Linked DNA regions of Homo sapiens. The protein of the gene in region 1 interacts with the protein of each later gene in a biochemical or structural test. Each region holds a gene or a part of one and is shown on either strand. Other genes may lie near its edges.

Evidence for each region.
Region 2: the proteins of KHDRBS1 (region 1) and HCK interact in a biophysical measurement, tested with the Homo sapiens proteins (2 studies listed by BioGRID and IntAct, with this or other methods).

What each region holds. Positions count from the first base shown.
Region 1 is NC_000001.11:32,030,860-32,037,899, reverse strand, and holds part of KHDRBS1 (KH domain-containing, RNA-binding, signal transduction-associated protein 1), read right to left. Parts: intron 6,377-7,040; coding exon 6,260-6,376; intron 4,713-6,259; coding exon 4,566-4,712; intron 991-4,565; coding exon 857-990; intron 66-856; coding exon 1-65. UniProt on the Homo sapiens protein: Recruited and tyrosine phosphorylated by several receptor systems, for example the T-cell, leptin and insulin receptors. Once phosphorylated, functions as an adapter protein in signal transduction cascades by binding to SH2 and SH3 domain-containing proteins.
Region 2 is NC_000020.11:32,097,242-32,102,396, reverse strand, and holds the end of HCK (tyrosine-protein kinase HCK), read right to left. Parts: intron 3,394-5,155; coding exon 3,262-3,393; intron 1,081-3,261; coding exon 878-1,080; 3' UTR 541-877; downstream 1-540. UniProt on the Homo sapiens protein: Non-receptor tyrosine-protein kinase found in hematopoietic cells that transmits signals from cell surface receptors and plays an important role in the regulation of innate immune responses, including neutrophil, monocyte, macrophage and mast cell functions, phagocytosis, cell survival and proliferation, cell adhesion and migration.

The DNA.
Region 1 (7,040 bases):
TGATGGCTCCCCTTACTGGTGTACCACGTACCAAAGCCCCCCGAGGTGGTCCAACACCACGGCCCCTACAAAATGAAAGTTTATCTTAAATGGAGCTTTTTATAAACAGGCCACTTTTATGTTCTGATTTGTTTACAAATTCTGGAATTAGGCAGATTTTATGAAGCCTTAACTAGGCTATTATTAAAGCACAGAGGAATGTACAGGGTAAAGGACCCACACTGCAAGATCCCCCAGGTCCTATAGAGGACCAATTCATCACTGCACTGCCTTGGGTAGGTCTGGAGAGTCTGAATACTCTATAAAGGTCAGTCACAAAAGGTAGAATTTTAAAGTCAGACCATTAACAAATGCTAAGACTGTCCAAAATTAGAAGACCAAAAGTTTCAGCTAGACTGCAGCACTTGGCTATGGTCAAAGTGCCCAAGATCTAGAACTCTATTTTTTTTTTTTTTTGAAATGGAGTCTTGCTCTATCTCCCAGGCTGAAGTGCAGTGGCATGATCTCGGCTCACTGCAACTTCCGTCTCCTGGGTTCAAGCAATTCTCTTGCCCCAGCCTCCTGAGTAGTGTGGTGTATGCCACCACACCTGGATAATTTTTGTATTTTTAGTAGAGACAGGGTTTCACCATGTTGGCCAGGCTGGTCTCAAACTCCAAATGTCAGTTGATCCGCCTGCCTTAGCCTCCTAAAGTGCTGGGATTACAGGTGTGAGAGTATGGTTGTAGAATTCTGTTCTTTATGCAACATACAAATCCTGAGACCCTTCCTAAGCTAGACATAAGAGCACCACTAAAAGAGATGACACTAGTAGTCAAATTCACATCCTATTTCTGGGTGTCTCCATTATTTTTACCTGGGAACAGGTGGTGGAGGAGGTGCAGCTCCCCGGCCTCTCACTGGCACCCCACGTCCACGAGAGGGTTCAGGTACTCCATTCAAGTAGGACAGCTCTAGAAATTGCTCCTGACAGATATCATCCATCATATCCTGGGAACGAAAGATACAAGGAGTATTGTGTGGTATCTACACTTTCTACTGAGAAATCATCTGGTCCACGGGAGACTTGAATTCTAAGAAGAGCTCTTGAGAGCCCAGATGAGGTCTCAGGTCATTCCTTCTCTGAAGTCAAATGGCACCCTATCTGTCACCTCTTTGAGAAAAGTCTTGATGGTAGACCCCTCATTATTCATAATGTGGTCTCTGCCTAGCTCTCCGGATCACTTCCATTCTCTCTCTATATATAACCTACTCACAAGCCAGACTGAACAACTTGTAGTTCAGAGCCTGGCATACTCTTACATATCCATTCTTTGCAAATAGTTTCCTTTTCCTGGAATAATAAAAGCCACTACCATTAATGGAGCTGTATGCACTTGGCTCTATATAATAAGCTTTATATAGATTTTTCAGTTTAATCTTCAAAATGAGGGCCGGGTGCAGTGGCTCACGCCTGTAATCCCAGCACTTTGGGAGGCCGAGGCGGGCAGATCACGAGGTCAGGAGATCGAGACCACCCTGGCTAACACGGTGAAACGCTATCTCTACTAAAAATACAAAAAAATTAGCCGGGCGCGGCAGGCACCTGTAGTCCCAGCTACTCGGAAGGCTGAGGCAGGAGAATGGCGAGAACCCGGGAGGCGGAGCTTGCAGTGAGCCAAGATAGCGCCACTGCAGTCCGGCCTGGGCGAAAGAGAGAGACTCCATCTCAAAAAAAAAAAAAAAAAAAAAAAAAATCTTCAAAATGACCCTGAAATAAGTAGGCAGATCTCCACATTTTACAGTTAAGAAAACAGACTCAAGGAGTATACATCAACCAGCTTAAGAACACAGAGCTAATAAATGGCAGACTCTAGATGTGAATTCAGAATTACCTGTCTCAAAATCTAGGTGTTGGATCAACAGGCTTTTTTGTCCTTATACTGTCTTTTTTGTCCACCTGAGGGATTCTTAATTCATCCTTACAAGACTTGCCTAAATAAGTGTCTCTTGAAAAACTTTCTCTTGATGCCACCCCTACAACTCCTCTTTTCTCAAAGTACCACATAATTCCCTATACCCAAGCACTTACCACATAATTTTAGAATTGTCTGTCACTAAACTGTAAGCTCTTTAGGAGCCATTTTTGTAACTTTACACCCAAGCATAGTATCAGACATCTGACAGATACTTAAGAAATGTTTGGGACGAACAAGAAACCTGAAGCTCAGAAAAGTGAAATGATAACCTGTTCAGGAAGACACAGATAGACAGACATACATAGTCCAGTGCTCTTCCTACGGCACTGTGAAGCATTGCTGGTATAGTTAATTGTTCTAAGTGGAAAATGGAGGGCTCTGGTCACAGATGCAAAAATAGCCTCACTTTTCTTTCCTCCACAAGAGGGAAAAATCAAATGCCACTGGCAAATCTTTTCACACTTCCTATTGAGAGCCATTCAGTCTTAATACTTCATGCATTTTTATATATCCCAGGCGTATACAGCTTCAATAGATGATGCTAGTCTTTGATGCCCCCCTCAACTCTCTAGCTCCTCCTACCTTACACATTACCGCTGCTTGAGACTCACACCTTGGAGAATCAAGTAACCAATGCCAGACCATTGCTCAGACTCCTCCAACTGCCACATCAACACTGAGGAAACCCACATCTCCCCGGCAAGCATCTTTTTCAAAAGATTCACTTACAAGCAAGCCTCATAAACCTAACCCTTCTGAGGAATATGAGGGAGACTAACAATGAAGAGAGGAGATGGGCATTCCCTCTGCAGTCCTTTGGAAATTGAATGGCTTGGGTGATCAATAGAACACCCCAAAAAGAGTAAAAAGAATTTCCTTAAGATTATTAACCAGCTGTGTTTTTCTCTAGGATATGTTAAATGGTCTGTTTCATGTTGAACATTCTTTTTTTTTTTTTTTTGAGACAGAGCCTCACTCTGTCACCCAGGCCAGAGTGCAGTGGCGCAATCTCGGCTCACTGCAAGCTCCGCCTCCCGGGTTCATACCATTCTCCTGCCCCAGCCTCCCGATTAGCTGGGACTACAGGCGCCTGCCACCACGCCCAGCTAATTTTTTTTTTGAATTTTTAGTAGAGACGGGGTTTCACCATGTTAGCCAGGATGGCCTTGATCTCCTGACCTCGTGATCCACCCGCCTCGGCCTTCCAAAATGCTGGGATTACAGGTGTGAGCCACCGCGCCCTGCCTCATGTTGAACATTCTAATGAAGATGAGGTACTTGAAAGCAAAGCAGCTGCTAAGACATTTGAGACTGTTGGAATCCTTGGAGTTCAGCATTATGGGTACACAATGCCTAAAAACTTATTTATTTATTTTTTTTGGAGATGGAGTTTCACTCTTGTTGCCCAGGCTGGAGTCCAATGGTGCAATCTCAGCTTACCGCAACCTCTGCCTCCTGGGTTCAAGTGATTCTCCCGCCTCAGCCTCCCTAGTAGCTGGGATTACAGGCATGTGCCACCACGCCCGGCTAATTTTGTATTTTTAATAGACAGGGTTTCTCCATGTTGGTCAGGCTGGTCTCGAACTCCCGACCTCAGGTGATCTGCCCTCCTCGGCCTCCCAAATTGCTGGGATTACAGGCGTGAGCCACCGTGCCTGGCCCACACTGCCTATAAATTTTTGCCCTATCAATTTTCACATCATCTGACACCACATTTAGTTCTAATTCCCTCATTTAACATTCAAGAAAACCAAGGACTGTATCTTACCTCCTCCTAGTTTTCTGATGAACACATGACGCTTACTCAATTCTACTTAATAATATTCCAAATCCTTCATAAGTCTCCAGATTCATCCTTGTTATTAAATATTCAACAGTAGTATGTTAACTCTGACAACCACCAGGCCTTGCTAAAAGGCAAAAATAGTACCATTTCCTATTTATTCAAAGTAATATTCCAACCAAGTATTCAAAGGTGGTAACAAGCAAGATAGATAAACTGGCCTGTCCCATCTCTATCTAGTCCTCAGTAATAGTCTGAAAAAAGCTGCTCACCTATCTGTTAAACATCAATAGTCAACCTCTTCCAAACTAAACTCGTCCTCAGCAAACTCCTCCAGGAAAGAAATCCCTGAGTGTGCTCAGGTCAGAATTTAACCCAATAACACTAGATGCTATAAGCTTCTTGCTGCTAGTCTCTACTCTCTACAGCATGAACTTCTTGAGTGCAGAGACCCACCTTAGTCACTTTCCTAACACAATCTCCTTGTTCCACACTACTACCAAAATACTCAGCTAGGTGAAGACCCTGTTAAACCTTAGTTAACCAAATATCAGAATGCAGGCACACTGTGGACCCGAGATACTGACAAGATACCGGTACACAATGAAAACCACATTAGACAAGGAGGGATAGAGTGGCCTTGGAGCATAATGCTTTGAGAACTAGGTGCAAGTAACGAACTACCTAAGGAAAATGAACATAAGTGCAGAATTTGGTATACATACAGGTTATGCAGAGACCTTAGTTAAGAACCCCTACCTTCACAACAGTATAAGATCCCAGTTCTCTTTTGCTCAGAAGACACAGGATATGGATTTCCTTACCGGTACTAGAAATTTCTTGACTTCCTCCATGGCATGGGCCATAAGAGCATAAGCCTCACATGGGGGTCCAAAGACTTCAATGAAGACATGCAGATCCATATTCAAGTGGGCATATTTGGGGTCTCCACCTTTGCGCAGCTCTTCCTCCTATGGAAAAATGCAGAGAAATGTCACACCATGGACTAGGGAGAAAACACCACCTTTACCTCTAAGCCAAAGGAACAGCAAGAAATACCCCTAATGTCCATGAAAAACAGTAAAGTTAATTGGTATGAGCTGAGAAGAATTAAACAAAAAAAGAAAAAAGAAAAAAGAAAAACAGTAAAGTTTAAGAAAGTAAAACAAGCAGCCAGGCGCGGTGGCTCACGCCTATAATCCCAGGACTTTGGGAGACTGACGCGGGAGGATCACAAGGTCAGGAGTTCGAGACCAGTCTGACCAATGTGATGAAGCCCCGTCTCTACTAAAAATACAAAAATTAGCCGGGCATGGTGGCGCACGCCTGTAATCCCAGCTACTCAGGAGGCTGAGGCAGGAGAATTGCTTGAACCCGTGAGGTGGAGGTTGCAGTGAGCCACTGCACTCCAGCCTGGGCAATAGAGCAAGGCTCCCTCTCAAGAAAAAAAAAAAAAGTAAAACAAACTCTCAAGAACAGTAATTTGCACAGCCTGCTAAACTTGCACATGGTCTGCTGCTTACAGTTAATTGTTGTCTTAAATCCCTGAGATATCCATTGGAGCTCCTACTAAAAGCATAAAGAAGAAAAACTTAATTCTAGTCTATTCAGATAATAGCTGTTTGCCAAGCATTTGTTTTTAAATCACAGGTAGAGCTGTTAATCACCACGAGCTCTGCTTATCTGCTTATATGGTCTAGGGAGTGGTAGGGGAAGAAAGAAGTCAGGACAGAGGGAAGAAAAGCTCATGTAAATCTCATTAGTTAGAACACACTTCAGCCGTAACTATATGCATCTAGCAAGAAATGACCTGAGAAAACAAACATGTGTCCATTAGACTACATAAAAGGAGGGTTGAAAGAATTGGTTTTTGGACTGTAGCAGGAATATCTCATCAAATAAGGTGACCCCAGAAGGCTAAGACTATTCTGTTTTGGTGAGAAGTTTCTTGTCACAGAGTACACAGCGTACGCGGCTATGGCATGGGGAAAAAAAAGACGCATTAGATTCTGTAGTCAGGATTACTCATGGTTCCTTTTGGAATACATTCTTTTAGTGAGCCTCACATTCCAAACCGGCTATAAAACAAACCAACTAATCCTCAAACTCATCTGCTCTCACATTATTGTTCTCACTTTTCCAGGTTACAAAAAAGGGGGTGTGCTATTTGCATTTTAGCGTCTTTTGTCTGCTTTAGACTAAATTTTAGTATATTCAGTTCCCCTTTCAAGTTTTCACAGACAATCCTACCAATGCGCAACATGCTACTGCTGTTTCCATTACTACACAGTCAAAAAGTCCAAAAGAAAACTATCACCAGGGCACACCTAGGCTCTTCCAGGGTTGCCAAGCCAAGTAAATTAACTTGGTGTATAATCTCTTGCATCCAGTGCAAACTTAAAGGAGCCACATTCTGTACACATACAAAATTCTTGCCGCCTCTATAAGACATCCATACTGCATTCTGGGCAAGTAGAAGGCATTAGGATGTCCTCTTGCCTCACTAATGTGAGCTTACCTTGGCTTTGTCTCTCATTGAGCCCTTTCCCAATACAGAGATCTTTGCACCAGTCTCTTCCTGCAGTCTTTTGATTGTATTCCCTTGTGGTCCAAGAATCTTCCCCACAAAATTGAACTGACAGAAAATAGAGGATTTCTAAATATACATGCTACTATATAAAAACATTTCCACATAAATTACCTCACTTGATTTTAAACAACCCTGCAAAGGTAGAGTATTACCATTCCCATTTTACTGAAGGACACTGAAGCCATATTAATAAAGTGATTAGCTTAAGGTTATGAAACTAGAAAGTGGCAGTTCCTAGACCTGAATTTGGCTTTTCTGATGTATTCTGGTGCTCTTCCATAATACATTAAGACCTTTACTATTTTATTTTTTACTTTATTTTGAGACAGGCTCTCACTCTGTTGCCCAGGCCAAAGTGTAGTGACACAATCATGGCTCATCACAGCCTCAACTTTCTGGACTCAAGTGATCCTCCTGCCCCAGCCTCCAGAGTAGCTGGGTACAGGTGCACACCACAACACCAGGCTAATTTTTGTATTTTTTGTAGAGATGGGGTTTCGCTATGTTGCTCAGGCTGGTCTTGAACTCCTGGGCTCAAGCAATCTGCCTGCATCGGCCTCCCAAAGTGCTGGCATTACAGGCATGAGCCACTGTGCCTGGCCCAGCACTTAACATACATCAACATTTTTAAGGCAGTGACCTCAGAACAGAAGAGACTATATAGCACCCTTTGATAACACGCTGGATAAACTAAATGTAACTAAATGCT
Region 2 (5,155 bases), on another chromosome or scaffold:
GGCCAGGCTGGTCTCGAACTCCTGATCTCAAGTGATCACCCACCTCAGTCTCCCAAAATGCTGGAACTATAGGCATGAGCCATTATGCCCGGCCAAGTAATGTTATGCAGTTTTGTTGTCTTAAGCTACCAGATATGTGGTAATTTGTTACAGGAGCAAGAGGAAACTAATATAGCCAGTAACTATTTTAGGGCAGTTAGAAAACCTCAAGCATTGAACCCCAATTTTCTTTCCTTTCCTTTCTTTCTTCTTCTTCATCTTTTTTTTTTTTTTTTAAACAGGGTCTCACTGTGTCGCTCAGGCTAGAGTGCAGTGGCACGATCATAGCTCACTGTGGCCTCGACCTCCTGGGCTCAAGCAATCCCCCGCTCCTCGGTCTCCCAAAGCACTGGTATTATAGGTGGGAGCCACAGCACCCAGTCTGAACCCCACTTGTCTTTGTATTTCTGGTCCCCGGGAGAGTCCTTCACCATTTCTGACTTGTCATACAGCAAGAAGGCAAATAGATATTCAGGAATTGGAAGGACAGGAAAACCAACGTTTTGGTAAAGACTTTGGCATTTATATCTTTTATTTAAATATTCATTTCACTATTTTGAAAGTTTCCCTTCCAAATCACAGCTGTAACTAAAATCCAACCATTCCAGGAAATAGAAATATCAACTTGGGGGCTTCCTGAGAATGTCAGATTGTGGATTGCAAGAGTCAAAAAGAGATTTTCCAGTCCAACCTACCCACTGGACAGATGAGGAAACTGTGGCTGAAGCGAGGGTGGGTGTCTGGGAGTAGGAAGGGGGTGTGGGCCCTGGCGGATGGTGCTGGAGCCACCTTGCAGCCACCACCTGGGCACCCCCTGGCCCTGCCCTGGTCCTCCCTATCATGGCTGCTGTTGGTACTGGCTCTCTGTGGCCGTGTAGAAGTCATCCAGCACACTCTGGATGTATTCGAAGGTCGGCCGCTCCTCCGGACGGTTTTTCCAGCAGCGCATCATGATGTTGTAGAGCTCCTCTGGGCAGTTCTCTGGGCGAGGCATCCGGTATCCACGCTCCAGAGCTCGGATCACTTCAGGGTTTGACATCCCTGAAAAGGAGCCGTGGAATTAGAAACGGAAGCAGTTGGGAAATGAGAGCCCAGGGGTGGCAGGCCCTGTGGCCTCCCCAGCAGGCATCACTCCCCACCTCACCTTGCAAGCTGAGCCCCTTCCACTGTGAAAGACAGACTTCCACCCTCAGCTTCACTTGCAGCTAGGACATGGGCCTGGGACCCAGTTTGGGCCAATGGGAGCTGATGGGGAGGTCTGCTGGGAAAGTGATGGAAAGGTTTTTCCTCCCGCTTAGAGGAGAGTCTTTGGAGAACGCACCCTTCATCTCTTCCTTTGAACACTGTGAGATACTTATGATACTTGGAGCTGACAACATGGAGAAGACCATCATAGAGACAGGAACCCAGAGTCCTGACAGCTGCTGAGTTGCTGAACTAACCAGTCACCAATGGAAGATTGGGAGTAATAGATTGCTTCTATTTCAGTTACTCTTTGTCTGTTATTTTGTTGCTTGCTGTGGAACACATCCTAATGGATTCAGCGTCTATTGTGTGTTGCCTGGTTTTGACTAGTGCACCCTCAAGACAAAACATTCAGGTGGCCAGATTCAATGTTAACCTATGGGTGGGACCATTTTTTTGTTCAGTTCAAGTTTCTATTAGCTATTCATAAGAATAGCCATTCAATGTCTGTGATCCCCAATTTTATATTATTAGTCTCAAACTCCAAACTCATGAACTCAAGTGCTTCCTTTACTTGGATGTCTCTATATTTAAGTCAACTCAAATTTAGCAGAGCTAAAACAGAGCTCTCCAATTTCTATCCCTAGACCATTACCCACCCTGTGGTGCAAAGCCAGGGTAATCATCCTTTATTCTCTCTCTCTCACCTCCTAAGTCAGCAAGTCAGATCTTTTCTCCTTTTGAAACGTAGCACCAGTTCATCAACGTATGCCAGTCACGAATGCCACCACCCTGTCCAGACCATCATCACCTCTGCCTGGGCCACTGCTGTGGCCTCCTCACTGGCTGCCACCCTGTTCCCTTTCCCTCCCATTCACTCTCCATGCTGAAAGCATCGCTTAAAAATGGAAATCACCAGCCCGGCAACATAGCAATACCTTGTCTCTCAAAAAATTTAAAGAATTAGCTGGGCATGGTGGTGTGTGTCTGTAATCCCAGCATTTTGGGAGGCCAAGGCTGGAGGATCGTTTGAGCCTGGAAGTTAGAGACCAGGCTGCACAACGTAGTGAGACCAAGTCTCTACAAAAAAATTAAAAAAATAAAAAATAGCCAGACATGGTGGCATGTGCCTATGGTCCCAGATACTCGGGAGGCTGAAGCGGGAGGATCATTTGAGCCTAGGAAGTCGAGGCTGCCATGAGCTATGATTACACCACTGCACTACAGCCTCAGTGACAGAGTGAGACCTTGTCTTAAAAAAAAAAAAAAAGGTGGAGAAAGGACAAGATCTGATTTAAAGTTTAGAATTATCCTTCTGGCTGCAAGTGGAGAATAGGCTGTAGGACGAGGAGGGAGAAAGCAGTAAGACTGATGAGGATGCCGCTGCACCATCTATGGGAGATGACGCTGGCCTGGATGCAGTGGAGACTGTGGGGTTCAAAGTGGTGAGACTTGGGATATGTTTTGGAGTCGAGTGGCCAAAACCCTGTGACTGCTCAGATGTCATAGGGGTGAGGCCAGGCACAGTGGCTCACGCCTGTAATCCCAGCACTTTGGGAGGCCGAGGCAGGCGCATCACCTAAGGTCAGCAGTTCGAGACCAGCCTGGCCAACATGGTGAAACCCCGTCTCTACTAAAAATACAAAAATTAGCCAGGCATGGTGGTGGATGCTTGTAATCCCAGTTACTCAGGAGGCTGAGGCAGGAGAATCGCTTGAACCTGGGAGGCGGAGGTTGCAGTGAGCCGAGATCACGTCACTGCACTCCAGCCTGGGTGACAGAGGGAGACTCCGTCTCAAAAAAAAAAAAAAAAAAAAAAAAAGTCATAGGAGTGAGAGAGAAGGAAGGGCCAAGGAAGCCCCCAGATTTCAGGCTTAAGACATTAGATGGATGGAGGTGCCTTTAACTAAGACAGGAAAGGTGAGGGAAGGTTGGGGGTGAGGATCAAGAACTCAGTTTGAATGGACATGTTGTTGAGATGAGCCCATTGCCAGACTGGGCCCTGGTAGCAGCCCTGAGCTGATGCCCCTTCCCTACCTGGGTAAGGGATCCGGCCGTAGGTGACGATCTCCATCAGCAGGATACCAAAGGACCAGACGTCTGACTTGATGGTGAAGGAGCCAAAGTTGATGGCTTCAGGAGCTGTCCACTTGATGGGGAACTTGGCCCCTGCAGGGTTGAACAGAGCAGAGTCGGGGAAGGCTGGGGAGTAGTGAGGGTTGGCTCTGCTAAGGTGGGGGAACAGGCAAGGGCAAGAGCTGCCAACATCTGCCCCTGCAGACCTGCAATTTCCCTGATACGTGGCCTCCCTGTGGAAGCAAGGGACATCCATCCTGAGGACAGATGGCTAAACAAGGAGGAGTGGGCTTAGGGGCCTGGGGTATGGTGTGGAAGTTCACTCTAGAATCCTCCTCGTTGATTCAGCTGATACCCCAGTTAACTGCAACTCCGAAGAGTGGAATCCCAGAGGTCACAGGTCTTTGGGGACAGAAGGACTTCAGGGGGCCTTGAGTCCAGGTTGCAGCTGATGCCTCAGTCCTCTCATCCTGGGCGATGGGAAAAGGGAGGATTCTGGCTCTCAGCCCATGAGGTTCCCACCAGTCACTATGTGTCTCTCCCTTTACCCGCCCTTCCTCCCACCTAGTCTGACATGGGTTTAGTTAGCCTTTTCATTTTTTTTTTCTTTTAGAGACAGAGTGCCCAGGCTGGAGCGCAGTGGCACAATCATAGTTCACTGAAGCCTCGAACTCCTGACCTCAAGCTATCCTCCTGCCTCAGCCTCTCAAGCCCCTGGGGTTACAGGTGTGCCCCATTATGCCAAGCTAATTAAAAAAATTTTTTTGGCCAGGTATGGTGGCTTGTGCCTGTAATCCCAGCACTTTGGGAGACCAAGGAGGAGGATCACCTGAGGTCAGGAATTCGAGACCAGCCTGGCCAACTCCATCTCTACTAAAAATACAAAATTAGCTGGGCATGGTGGCAGGTGCCTGTAGTTCCAGCTACAGGCTGAGACAGGAGAATCACTTGAACCCAGGGGATGGAGGTTGCAGTGAACCGAGATCACACCACTGCACTCCAGCCTGGATGATAGAGTCAGACTCCGTCTCAAAAATAAAATAAAATAAAATAAAATAAAATATAAAAAAATAGAAAAATTTGTAGAGACAGTGTTTTATTATGTTACCCAGCCTGTTCTCAAAACTCCTGGGCTCAAGTGATCCTCCCATCTTGGCCTCCTAAAGCACTGGGATTATAGGTGTGAGCCACCGCACCTGGCATAGTTATCCTTTTTTAAAAAGTGTTTAGTTTAATTATATCATGGTTGGTGAACATGGTCTATAGAATATATGTTCTTTGGAATTTGTTGAGACCTGCTTTATGACTGAGTACATGGTCAAGTTTTGAAAATGTTCTATGTGTGTGTTTGTGTGTGTGAGAGTGTGTGTGTGTGTATATGTTTTCTCCCTTCCTCCTTTGGATCTACAGACTTTTCTTGATTTCCTGCTTATCTTCTTCTGGTTTAGAAATTATACATTCTACTTTTATTCCTTTAGTCATTACATTTATTTATTTATTTATTTATTTATGTTTTGAGACAGGGTCTCGCTCTGTTTGCCCAGGCTGGAGTGCAGTGGTGTCATCTCAGCTCACTGCAAGTTCCGCCTCCCGGCTTTCACGCCATTCTCCTGCCTCAGTCTCCCAAGTAGCTGGGACTACAGGTGCCCGCCACCACGCCTGGCTAATTTTTTGTATTTTTAGTAGAGATGGGGTTTCACCGTGTTAGCCAGGATGGTCTCGATCTCCTGACCTCGTGATCCTCCCACCTCAGCCTCCCAAAGTGCTGGAATTACAGGCATGAGCCAACGTGCCCGGCCCTATTTATTTACTTTTTTGAGACAAAGTCTTGCTCTGTTACACAGGCTGGAGTGCA